Linked DNA regions of Homo sapiens. The protein of the gene in region 1 purifies or fractionates together with the protein of each later gene. This does not show direct contact. Each region holds a gene or a part of one and is shown in the gene's direction. Other genes may lie near its edges.

Evidence for each region.
Region 2: the proteins of CAMK4 (region 1) and PPP6R2 purify together in Homo sapiens (affinity purification with mass spectrometry; 2 studies listed by BioGRID and IntAct, with this or other methods). This does not show direct contact.
Region 3: the proteins of CAMK4 (region 1) and ANKRD28 purify together in Homo sapiens (affinity purification with mass spectrometry; 2 studies listed by BioGRID and IntAct, with this or other methods). This does not show direct contact.

What each region holds. Positions count from the first base shown.
Region 1 is NC_000005.10:111,222,727-111,226,473, forward strand, and holds the start of CAMK4 (calcium/calmodulin-dependent protein kinase type IV), read left to right. Parts: upstream 1-1,657; 5' UTR 1,658-1,757; coding exon 1,758-1,918; intron 1,919-3,747. UniProt on the Homo sapiens protein: Calcium/calmodulin-dependent protein kinase that operates in the calcium-triggered CaMKK-CaMK4 signaling cascade and regulates, mainly by phosphorylation, the activity of several transcription activators, such as CREB1, MEF2D, JUN and RORA, which play pivotal roles in immune response, inflammation, and memory consolidation.
Region 2 is NC_000022.11:50,430,263-50,434,009, forward strand, and holds part of PPP6R2 (serine/threonine-protein phosphatase 6 regulatory subunit 2), read left to right. Parts: intron 1-910; coding exon 911-1,120; intron 1,121-2,002; coding exon 2,003-2,067; intron 2,068-3,747. UniProt on the Homo sapiens protein: Regulatory subunit of protein phosphatase 6 (PP6). May function as a scaffolding PP6 subunit. Involved in the PP6-mediated dephosphorylation of NFKBIE opposing its degradation in response to TNF-alpha.
Region 3 is NC_000003.12:15,672,271-15,676,017, reverse strand, and holds part of ANKRD28 (serine/threonine-protein phosphatase 6 regulatory ankyrin repeat subunit A), read left to right. Parts: intron 1-28; coding exon 29-120; intron 121-2,827; coding exon of another isoform or gene 2,828-2,937; exon of another isoform or gene 2,938-3,747. UniProt on the Homo sapiens protein: Regulatory subunit of protein phosphatase 6 (PP6) that may be involved in the recognition of phosphoprotein substrates. Involved in the PP6-mediated dephosphorylation of NFKBIE opposing its degradation in response to TNF-alpha.

The sequences.
Region 1 (3,747 bases):
TGTGGAAAAAATTATCTTCCAAGAAACTGGTCCCTGGTGCCGAAAAGGTTGGGGACCGCTGGCCTGTAGTATTCAGTATAGTAAAATGCTGTACAGGTTTGAAGCCTAGGAGCAATTGACTATTCCATCCAGCATAGCTGTGTAGTAAGCTATACTATCTGGTTGTGTACAAGTACACCCTATGATGTTCTTACAACTGCATCGCCTAAGGATGCATCTCTTCAACTTCTCACCGTGGTTGAGGGATGCATGACTATATATATTTTCAATTTCCAATCAGCTAGGAATCACATTCCTGTAACTACTTGATTGGATATTTTTGGTTGTTTGTTCACCAGTATAGCAGGCAGGCTTTTAAGAATAATAAATCCATAAATTAGATTAAAATATTGGACCATATTAATGGTTGGTGCTATCAGGAATGGAGACTTACTAGGAAGAGTTTAGCGCATGTTGGAGGAAACTCAGGAAAAAAAAAAGGCCAAAAGTAACACCTGTGAAGTAAGGTGAAAGCGCCTGGAGCTATTTAGCCAGAAATGAGTTGTGGTATAATAACTGTCATAGATATGTATCAGAACATGACTAATTGTTGTTCGTCTTTGCTGAAATCTGAAAAGAAAAAAGTTCAAGGGTAGTTTAAGTGATGTATGTTTAATACTGAGAAGAAGAGCCATGACAGCTGATGGACAGGACATAAGAATGCTTATCATGGGATACATCTCTTGGGAAGAGAAAAAGGGCTTTTACATGTAGCAGTCTTCCCTGTCATGAATGAGGACAGGTCCTGCCTTAAGGCAGAGGGTTTACTAGTTGGCTTCCACAAGGCCCTTCTAGAACTGTAATTCTGAGCCACTTCAGATGCTGAGATTGAACTCGACACAGCCAAGTATCTCCTCTTTTAGGAGCTCCAGCAGTGCCGAGGAGGCAGTGCCACCAGCAGCGACGACAGCATTTATTCCAACTGAAGACTTCACTCAAAGGTGAGTCAGGTCAGTGTGGACCTGGGCGCTTCCTTTTCCTCCAGCTCTCACTGGGTCCAGGCACAGGAGCCCTGAGGGATCGGCGACCACAGTACTCCCTCCCCGGCCACCAATATAAGCTTTGACAGAGGATGGCTGGTTAGCTGGTGTTAGGTGGGAGGGACTCGCCACGGAGACGCGCTCAAGGAGGGATGAGTTGCGCCACCACCACCTAGGTCCCTCTCTCGCTATCCGGCGGGGCCGCCCGGACCCAGGTGCTGCCAGGGTACGCCTGGCGCCCGCCATCCCAGAGCAGCGTCCCGCTGCGCACGGTCTCCCTCCAGCTCCGGTCCCCGCGGGAGGGCGCGTGGGATGATGCGCGGGTCCTTGTGCCTTCCCCAAGCTCCAGCATCCGGAGCCGCCCTAGCCGGCACCGCGGCAGCCACAGCCTGGGAGAGAGAAAGGAAAGAGGGAGGGCGGCGGGAAAGGCTCGGCGCGGGAGGAGGGCGGGTGAGGAGGGAAGGAGCGAGGGGGAGGGAGCCTCTCTCCTCAGCGGTGCAGCTAGTCTCCCTCCAGCGGGCGGCGACTCCGGGTTCCCCCTCGCGCCCTCTCGCAGAGGCTCGCCCCCTTCCCCGCCCACCGTCCCTGCGAGCGCGGGCGGCGGCGGTGGGCGTGTGCGCGCGTGAAGGACGCCGCCTCTCTCTCGCTCCTGCGTTCGCAGGCGGCGGCTGGCGGCCGGCTTCTCGCTCGGGCAGCGGCGGCGGCGGCGGCGGCGGCTTCCGGAGTCCCGCTGCGAAGATGCTCAAAGTCACGGTGCCCTCCTGCTCCGCCTCGTCCTGCTCTTCGGTCACCGCCAGTGCGGCCCCGGGGACCGCGAGCCTCGTCCCGGATTACTGGATCGACGGCTCCAACAGGGATGCGCTGAGCGATTTCTTCGAGGTGGAGTCGGAGCTGGGACGGTAAGGCGCGGGCTCCGGCTGGGGAAGCCCGCGGCGTGCACTGGGGGTTGTCCCTCTCGCAGCGACGGCTCGGAGGGTGCGGGAGCCTGCCTTCGTGCCCTTCGATTTCTCCCTACCTAGTTAGTGTCTTGAGAGAGAGCTAACCTTCATTCAGGTGCGGCTCGAGTCCTTCCCACCCCACCAGAGCGCCTAGGCCGGTGCAGCTGTAGGATCAGCCCGACTCCCTCCCACCTTCCCTCCTTCTCGCAGGCTGCCACTTCCCTTGGGTGACAGCTCCCACCGCACGTGGGCCCTGCTTTCCCAATTGATATCTTTGCTCACGATTATAGCTTGCCAGAGGGTCCTGTTTGTCTAGTTATTGTTTAGGGTGGGGGCCGGAGGGTGCCCCTCCAAATCAAGACAGAATTATTAAGTTAGATTCCTCCTCCTTCCCCTCGTCAAGCTCTCCAAAGCAAGTGACACGAGAAATTAAACTTAAATACTAGCTTCCCTGCAGAGTCTGCTCAGGAGTGAAGGGAGAAATGAATCATTTAAGAGAGTTGAAGGCAGAATAATGAACTAGTGTGGCTTTAAAGAGAAAGCAGCATATGGGATCCAGGCAGTGGTAATTAGTGAGAATGCTGCTGCTTCCCTTCTTTCATGGGCTGGAGTGATTTATTTAAATTATATATGCAACAGACCATCTCCCTAGGATTGCAGATATGTCCCCTATCCCTCCTCTGAAGATCCAAACAGGTAGCAGTTTGGCCTTCTGCATGATTCCATATGCTTTCGTATTTGTATCCATTGAAAATTATAGTTTTCTTTCCCTTACTTCCTTTTTTTTTGTCTTTTCTCTCTGTTATCCATAGGTAAGGAGATTTATTTTCAACACTTATTTTAGATCCAGGCTCTTTAGTATAGGGAATCTGAAGATGTAATTTCAACGGTTGACAAGTTGCAGCTTCTGTACTTACTACTCCTTTGCAATTTCATTTTTCATTCTCTTTTTGCTGGAAATAGTATTGCTAACAGCCTTTTTATTTTTTCAAGTCATTGGAGGATCCAGAGCAGGATTCTGGATGTTGGTATTTAGTGGGAAGATGTAATGATCACTGCCCACTCTCCCCCCACTTTGCTAGTACTATTGAAGGCTCATTGAATATAGATGTGTAAAATAGGCAAACTTCTGAATGAAAATTCAGTGATTTGTCACTGTTAAAAATGTTTTGAAGTATTTGAGCACTGAATAATGTATACATAAACATCCATTTTTGATCAAGTTTTTCAGTATTCATCTGAAGATCTATTATATATATAGGTGGAAATGAAAGGACAATGATGTCGATTTTTGTAAGGTCCAAAACATGCCTGTTATTAATTGTATGATGCGTGACAGTGGAACCATGTAAACCTCTGAGTAAAGGGATGATCTACTTAAAATTGTTTACTGGGTGTTTTATAAACTACTGTGTAGTAGAGGAAGTGCCTGATGCTGCTGCAGGGACTGTCCCAGTAGCACATCTGTTTTCAGAGTAACATTAACCCTAGATGCCTCAAATAGGCTGACTTATCCACACACGTTGTCTTTATGAATAAGCTTCATCGTCATGAAACTCAAGAAATTCACTTTAATTTGAAAAATGGGAAAAAAATAAACTGCCAATTGTATACCCCTATGAGATGGTAGCCTGCATAGGAAAAAACTGAGAAATTTGAAGTTTGGGTTTTTTATTTTTCAGTTCAGAATTACGTGTTGCAGTAAATTTTGGAGGACAAATATTAATCGGTTATACAGAAGCTTCTCAACTTATGATGGTGTTATGTCCCAATAAGCCCACTGTAGTTGA
Region 2 (3,747 bases), on another chromosome or scaffold:
GGTTAAGTCTGGGCTCCCTTGGGGAGTGTCTGAATGTGCCCCTCACAGTCTCACGTTTGTGTGGTGGACGATATGCACACGCCTGCCCATCCTGGGTGGAATCCTCATGTGCTTGAGAGTCTAACACACTTCCAATAATTCATGAGAAAGACAGAATCATAAAGGAACTTCTCACATACTTAGAACTGAAGAATCATAAAAATACTACTTAGCAAAATGTGTAGAATGTAGTTAAAGTTGATTGTATACAGGGAAATGTAGCCTTTAAAGACAGACTGGAAAGAAAGGCTGCAATTAATGAGTTGAGCTTCCAACTGAAGGACAAAAGAAGCCAGGCCTGGTGACTTATGCCTGTCATCCCAGCACTTTGGGAGGCGGAGGCGGGCAGATCACCTGAGGTTGGAAGTTCAAGACCAGCCTGACCAACATGGCAAAATCCCGTCTCTACTAAAAATACAAAAATTAGCTGGGCATGGTGGTGGGCACCTGTAATCCCAGCTACCAGGGAGGCTGAGGCAGGAGAATCACTTGAACCCAGGAGGCAGGGGTTGCAGTGAGCCGAGATCGTGCCACTGCACTCTAGCCTGGGAGACAAAGCAAGACTCCGTCTCAAAAAAAAAAAAAAAAAAGAATAAACCCGCAGAAAGTAGAAAGGTGATGATTCAGATTGAAGCAGAGACCAACAGACACCCACAGGCAGGAGGCAGAAGTGCTCAGTGGCTATTTGAAGAAGCTCCGTAATAGAGAGATGACCCTCAGGAAAACGCTTAAAACTCCTTCCTAGCTACCCAGAGACTGGACTTGTGAGGAGTTAGGACGCCACCTTTAGGAAGGGTTTCCCTCAGCTTTGTGGTGTAGCCGGCAGGAGAAAACCGATCTAAGAACTGTCTTCTGTCCTCTGTTTACCCAGGACTTGTTCTTTAAGTACACCTGGAATAACTTTTTGCACTTCCAAGTGGAACTATGCATAGCCGCTATTCTCTCCCACGCTGCCCGTGAGGAGAGGACAGAAGCCAGCGGATCCGAGAGCAGGGTGGAGCCTCCGCATGAGAACGGGAACCGGAGCCTGGAGACTCCCCAGCCGGCCGCCAGCCTCCCTGACAACACAATGGTGACCCACGTGAGTCCAAGAAGCATCCATCTTATCAGCGCCAACTGCGCCCCACTCAGACCGTGTCCATGTCAGCGCTGACGTGTGCCGGACCTCACTGTGCAGCTGACACGGGGGCAGGGCTTTGAAAAGGGTCCCCAGGTGTCTGGTCAGACGCTCGTAGACAGTGGGGCTTGAGTGGGTCTTGCAGATCTCATTCCTACCTGCCTTCAGCAGGGGTACTGGTGCCTTCCACGTGCAGGCCTGGCAAGGGTTAGCACTGGATGAGATGAGTTCAGTCTGGCCTCCAGCTGGAGGCCCAGGGAATAAATGCCCAGGGAGCCAGCAGTGTCAGTGATGGGAGCCACACGGTGGGGAGGGGATGCTGAGGGACATGCAGGCCAACCAGGGACTGTCACCCGGATAGCAAGGCCACAGGTATATCGTAGTGTGAGGTGGAGCCCAGGAAAAACATCTCAGGTACAAGAAGTGATCTGTGTCAGGGCCTGGAGGTGAGAGAAAGTGCTGAGGGCAGACAGCCCTAGTCGTTCTTCCGGACACAGAGAAAGAGGGCAGGAGAGTGGCCAAAGTGGAGGGCAATGGAGAGACGGGGAGAAGGCCCAGGGGAAGACAGGGGTCAGGGGGCAATTCCAGGAGTTGGAGGAGAAGGGAGAGGGTCCTTTTCTCGGGCTTCATCTTTAGGGCGCTCAGCAGTATGAGCCCCGAACCGCACCCTCCTCTGGTGTTTGGTGAGGACCGCGGAGGCTGGGGCTGTGCGTGCGCAGCAGTCAGGGCCTGCAAAGTCCACACAGACGTGGCCGCCAGCCAGCCCTGCCCAGTCCAGGGATGGGTGGAGGGGTGCGTGCCGCCTTCAGACCCTGACTCACGCTGTCCCCCTGCCCCGCCCCCCAGCTGTTCCAGAAGTGCTGCCTGGTGCAGAGGATCCTGGAGGCCTGGGAAGCCAACGACCACACGCAGTAAGAGCCGCTCGGACGTGGAGGGACCCAGCCTGGCCAGTCAGGGATGCAGAGACGCACCTCACCCAAGCCCTGGTGACGCTGCGTGCAGGACTGCAGGATCGGGTGGAGTGTAGGGTGTGCGACGTGGCTCCACGTTCTGGGGCTGCTGTGCAAGGGGCCCTTCTACTGGGCGGACAGCTGCAAATGCTACTTGGGGAGGGGACACAGGGAGCCGACAGGAAGCGGTCCCGTCCCCACCAGGCACCTGCTCTGGCCCCCGCCCAGCCTGGCTTTGCCCTCTTGTGGGTCCGCTGTCCGTTCCTGATCTTCCCCAGGAACTCGGGCCCTCCGTCAGCACTCGCACACAGGGACGCGTTATTTTGGTCTTTCCATCTTCTGCTTAATGGGTGCTCCCTCTGGTCAGGACACATGTCCCGCTTATTGTCGTGGGCCCAGAGCCATCCCCACCCGTTTGCTGTCCTGCTGGGAACTGTCTGGCTCTGGGCGATATGAGGAGGGACTCCAGGGAGCTGGGAGGGGTCTGAGTGCAGCTGTGGGGAAGCAGAGGCCGAGCTGGGCTGTACAGCATGGAGGTCCCGCCCAACCCTCCCCTTGGGGTGCTGAGCCTGAGCTTGGTAGCTGGCAGCATGGGCTCACCTCCTGCGCCACTGCTGCCACCAGCGGGACTTAGGCCACGCCACGGCCTTTCTGCCTCCATTTCCCTGTCTGTAAAATGGAGTGAGAGCAGTGTCTGTTTCCTCATCTGTCTCAGTGGCACTTTTGGTAGTGAGGTTGGGGTGAGCCTGCTGCACGTGGCAGGTGCTACTCAAACAGAAGTGTCCTGGAGGAGGGCAGGGGGCGCGGACACTGGGCAGGGGCCGGGCATTTGCTCTGGAGGTGAACCTGGAGGAGGGCAGGGGGCGCGGACGCTGGGCAGGGGCCGGGCATTTGCTCTGGAGGTGAACCTGGAGGAGGGCCGGGGGCATGGATGCTGGGCAGGGGCCGGGCACTTGCCCTGGAGGTGAACCTGGAGGAGGGCTGGGGGCGCGGACGCTGGGCAGGGGCCGGGCATTTGCTCTGGAGGTGAACCTGGAGGAGGGCTGGGGGCATGGATGCTGGGCAGGGGCCGGGCACTTGCCCTGGAGGTGAACCTGGAGGAGGGCTGGGGGTGCGGACGCTGGGCAGGGGCCGGGCATTTGCTCTGGAGGTGAACCTGGAGGAGGGCTGGGGGCGCGGACGCTGGGCAGGGGCCGGGCATTTGCTCTGGAGGTGAACCTGGAGGAGGGCCGGGGGCATGGATGCTGGGCAGGGGCCGGGCATTTGCTCTGGAGGTGAACCTGGAGGAGGGCCGGGGGCATGGATGCTGGGCAGGGGCCGGGCATTTGCTCTGGAGGTGAACCTGGAGGAGGGCCGGGGGCGCGGACGCTGGGCAGGGGCCAGGCATTTGCCCTGGAGGTGAACCTGGAGGAGGGCCGGGGGCATGGATGCTGGGCAGGGGCCGGGCATTTGCCCTGGAGGTGAACCTGGAGGAGGGCCGGGGGCATGGATGCTGGGCAGGGGCCGGGCATTTGCTCTGGAGGTGAACCTGGAGGAGGGCCGGGGGCGCAGACGCTGGGCAGGGGCCGGGCATTTGCTCTGGAGGTGAACCTGGAGGAGGGCCGGGGGCATGGATGCTGGGCAGGGGCCGGGCATTTGCTC
Region 3 (3,747 bases), on another chromosome or scaffold:
TGTACATGTATCATGTTTTTTCCCCTAGACCTCTGCATGTTGCTGCCCGAAATGGGCTAACAATGGTGGTTCAGGAACTTTTGGGAAAAGGAGCAAGTGTGCTTGCAGTAGATGAAAATGGTAAGTTGGTTCTATATTCTCTTCCCTTAACCTAGAGCTTTTATCTTTTGATCCATATTTGAAGAGAAATAAACTTGGATATTTTTTATTGGTCAAAGAGGAGAGCTAAAGTTAATATTGAAGAGTAGTTTGTGGCAAAGGAATAAGGGCAAAAGAAATAGGAAAAGTTATCTAACAGATGTACTTCCGAATTCCTATATCATCTGTTACAGCAAAGTTAGTATTTACTGTTTATACTTGCCACTTTCTGTTGTTTTAGTAGCCAAAGATTTTGTTCTTTCAGCAAATATGTATCAAGATCCTAGTTAAGTACTAATATTCTTATTTAAAGCCAGTGTTTCTACTCATGCACTAGATCCTGTCCCCTTTTGCCTACTTCATAATGTCAGTTTGACAGTTCTCTTTTGTGTCCTGGAGTAACATTTTTCGCTCTCTTCCTGTATTATTCCTCTCAGTATATAAACATTAGTTCCCTCATCCTTAAAAAATAATTTATAAATCTCACTGCTCCTGCCAGCTACTGCCATATTTCTCTGTCCCCTTTTGCAGCAAAACTACTCTCTTGCTGTCCGCAGTTATTCCTCTCATTCTTCCATTCTTTTGTTGTTGTTGTTGTTGTTTGTTTTTGAGACGGAGTCTAGCTCTGTTGCCCAGGCTGGAGTGCAGTGCCATGATCTCGGCTTACTGCAACCTCCGCCTCCTGGGTTCAAGCGATTCTCATGCCTCAGCCTGCCCAGGTAGCTGGGATTACTGACACCTGCCACGACGCCTGGCTAAATTTTGTATTTTTAGTAGAGACGGAGTTTCACCATATTGGCCAGGCTGGTCTCAAACCCCTGACCTCAGGTGATCTGCCTGCCTTGGCCTCCCAAATTGCTGGGATTACAGGTGTGAGCCACAGCGTCCAGCCTCATTCTTCCATTCTCTCTTAATTTCCGTATAGTCAGGCCTTCTCCCCCTCACCCCTACACATAGCAAAACTGTTCCCATCAAAACCACCAATGACTTCTACTGTGTTAACTACTACTTAGCTCTCATTTTACTTGATAGATCAGCTTTTGGCACAACTGATCGTTTCCTTTGATAAATTTTTTTACTCTGCTTTTTGAACCCCACTCTTCCTTGGTTTTCCTTCTACATTACTAGTTATTCCTTCTTAATTTCTTTTACAAAATTTCTCCCTCTTCTTCTAGGACTCAATTCTTCGTTCTTTTTGCTTTCTCTATCTACATTGACTCCCTAGTGCTCTCATCAGTTCCTTTGGTTTTAAATACTACCTATAATGCTGAGGATTCCCAGATTTATATCTCCAGCCCAGACTTCTCACAGTCTCTATATATCCACGTGCCTAATTGACACATCCATGTGGATGTCTGATAAACAGCTTAAACCTAGAATGTGCAGAACTGAACTGTTGATCCTTTCCCACTCCCCTTGCCAGACCTACTCTCCCCACAGCATCATGCTCTCTCCATTGAAGACAATTCTCATTCTTAACAGTGGCTCAGGGCAAAACCCCTAGAGTCATCCTTGATTCCTCTCACTCATACTCAATGTATAGTCCATCAGCATATACTATTGACTCCACCTCTAAAGTAGATCTAAAGTATGCCCACTTTTTTCTTTACTGCTACCAGACTGACCTGGATCCTTTTAAAGTATATGAGAACATGTTACTCTTGAATTTCGGTTCTTCTTCTTTTTTTTTTTTTTTTTTTTTTTTGAAGAGGCAGGGTCTCACTCTGTTGCCCAGACTAGAGTACAGTGGTGAGATCATAGCTGATTGTAACCTTGAACTCCTGGGCTCAAGAGAACCTCTCACCTCAGCCTCCCAAGTAGCTAGCACTATAAGTATGCATCACCAGGCCTAGCTAATTTATTTTTTGTGCTGACAGACTCTCACTATATTGTCCAGGCCGGTCTTGAACTCCTGGCCTCAAGCAATCCCCCCACCTCAGCCTCCCAGAGTGCTCCACCTGGCCCCACTCATAGTTCTTAAAATGACCTTACTAGGCCCTACATGATGTGTCCTCCACCTTGTTACCTTTCTGATATTATTTCCTACTCTTCTCCTTTCTCTACTTCATTCTGCCATGCCAGCCCCTCCATAGCAGGGTTATACATGCATTGTGATCTTCATTCTGGCTGTTTACTCTGCCTGAACACTCTGTCCCCAAACATCCCATGACTAAATTCGTCACCTGTTTCAAATCTTAGCTCCAGTTTCATCTTCTCAATGAAGCATATTCTAACTATTCTTTACTACAACTTGCTAGATACCCCTACCATAGCATTCTCAGTCCTTGTTAACCTGCTCCACTCTTTCCTCTTTTTTTACATAAAGCTTTTAACATATTGTATATAATGTACTTTTTTGTTATGTTGATTTTGTGTCTTCTCCACTAAAGTGAATGTAAGCTCCACAAGAACAGTGAAATCTTTGTCAGTTGCATTCACTGATATATTCTTAGTGTTCTAAATAGTGCCTGAGCAAGTGGAGGCTCAGTGAATATTTGCTGCATGAGTGATTATGCCAAGCACTGTACTAACTTCTGATGATATAGTGTAAAATAAGACATAGTCTACTCCCTTGAATGGAGATAAGAGTGCAAACAGCCTATTAACGATGCACTTAAAATAGTTTAATTGGAATAAGCATAGAATGCTATGAGAGTACTTAAGAGGGTCTTCAAATCCTTTCTTGCAGGATCAGAGAAGGCATCCCAAAAAATGCAACTGCTAAGCCAAAATCCAAAGGATAAGGAGAAAGTGGGGGAGGAACTTTCTAAGCAAAGAGAGTGGCATGTTAAGAGATAAAACTGGCCGGGCATGGTGGCCCATGCCTATGGTCCTAGCACTTTGGGAGGCACAAGGCGAGTGGATCACCTGAGGTCAGGAGTTCGAGACCAGCCCCGCCAACATGGCAAAACCCCGTCTCTACTAAAAATACAAAAATTAGCCAGGTGTGGTGGCATGTGCCTGTAATCCTAGCTACTTGGGAGGCTGAGGCAAGAGAATCGCTTGAACCCAGGAGGCAGAAGTTGCAGTGAGCCGAGATCATGCCAGTGCACTCTAGCCTGGGTGACAGAGCCAGACTTCGTCTCAAAAAATAACCCCCATGCAGAGGAGAGGAGCCTGTTTTTAGTCATATTCTGACTAGAAAACACACCTGAAACAAGCTTCTTTCCCCACTCCCGCTCTCATCCAAGGCATCCTGGCCTATGTAATGGGTTGTTCTGCCTGCCAGCAGCAGGAACAGCAGCAGGCACCTTTAGAAGAACCCTTGAAAGAAGTGTGGGCAGTGAAGCACTCCCCCAGCTACTTTGAACAAATAAAATTTAATTAAAAATACGGACAGCCTTCAGCCACTGCTGCCAAACTTGGAAGGACATCAGTTGTTCTCTTTGACCCTTGACAAAATGGGAACTTTACAAAGGGGGAAAAATTACTTTTTGTGGCTGGGCACAGTGGCTTACTCCTATAATCCCAGCACTTTGGGAGGCAGAGGCGGGAAGATCACTTAAAGCCAGCAGTTTGAGACCAGCCTGGGGAACAAAGCGAGACCCTGTATCTACAAAAAAGTTTAAAAATTAGCCAGGCATGGCATGTGCCTATAGTCAGAGCTAG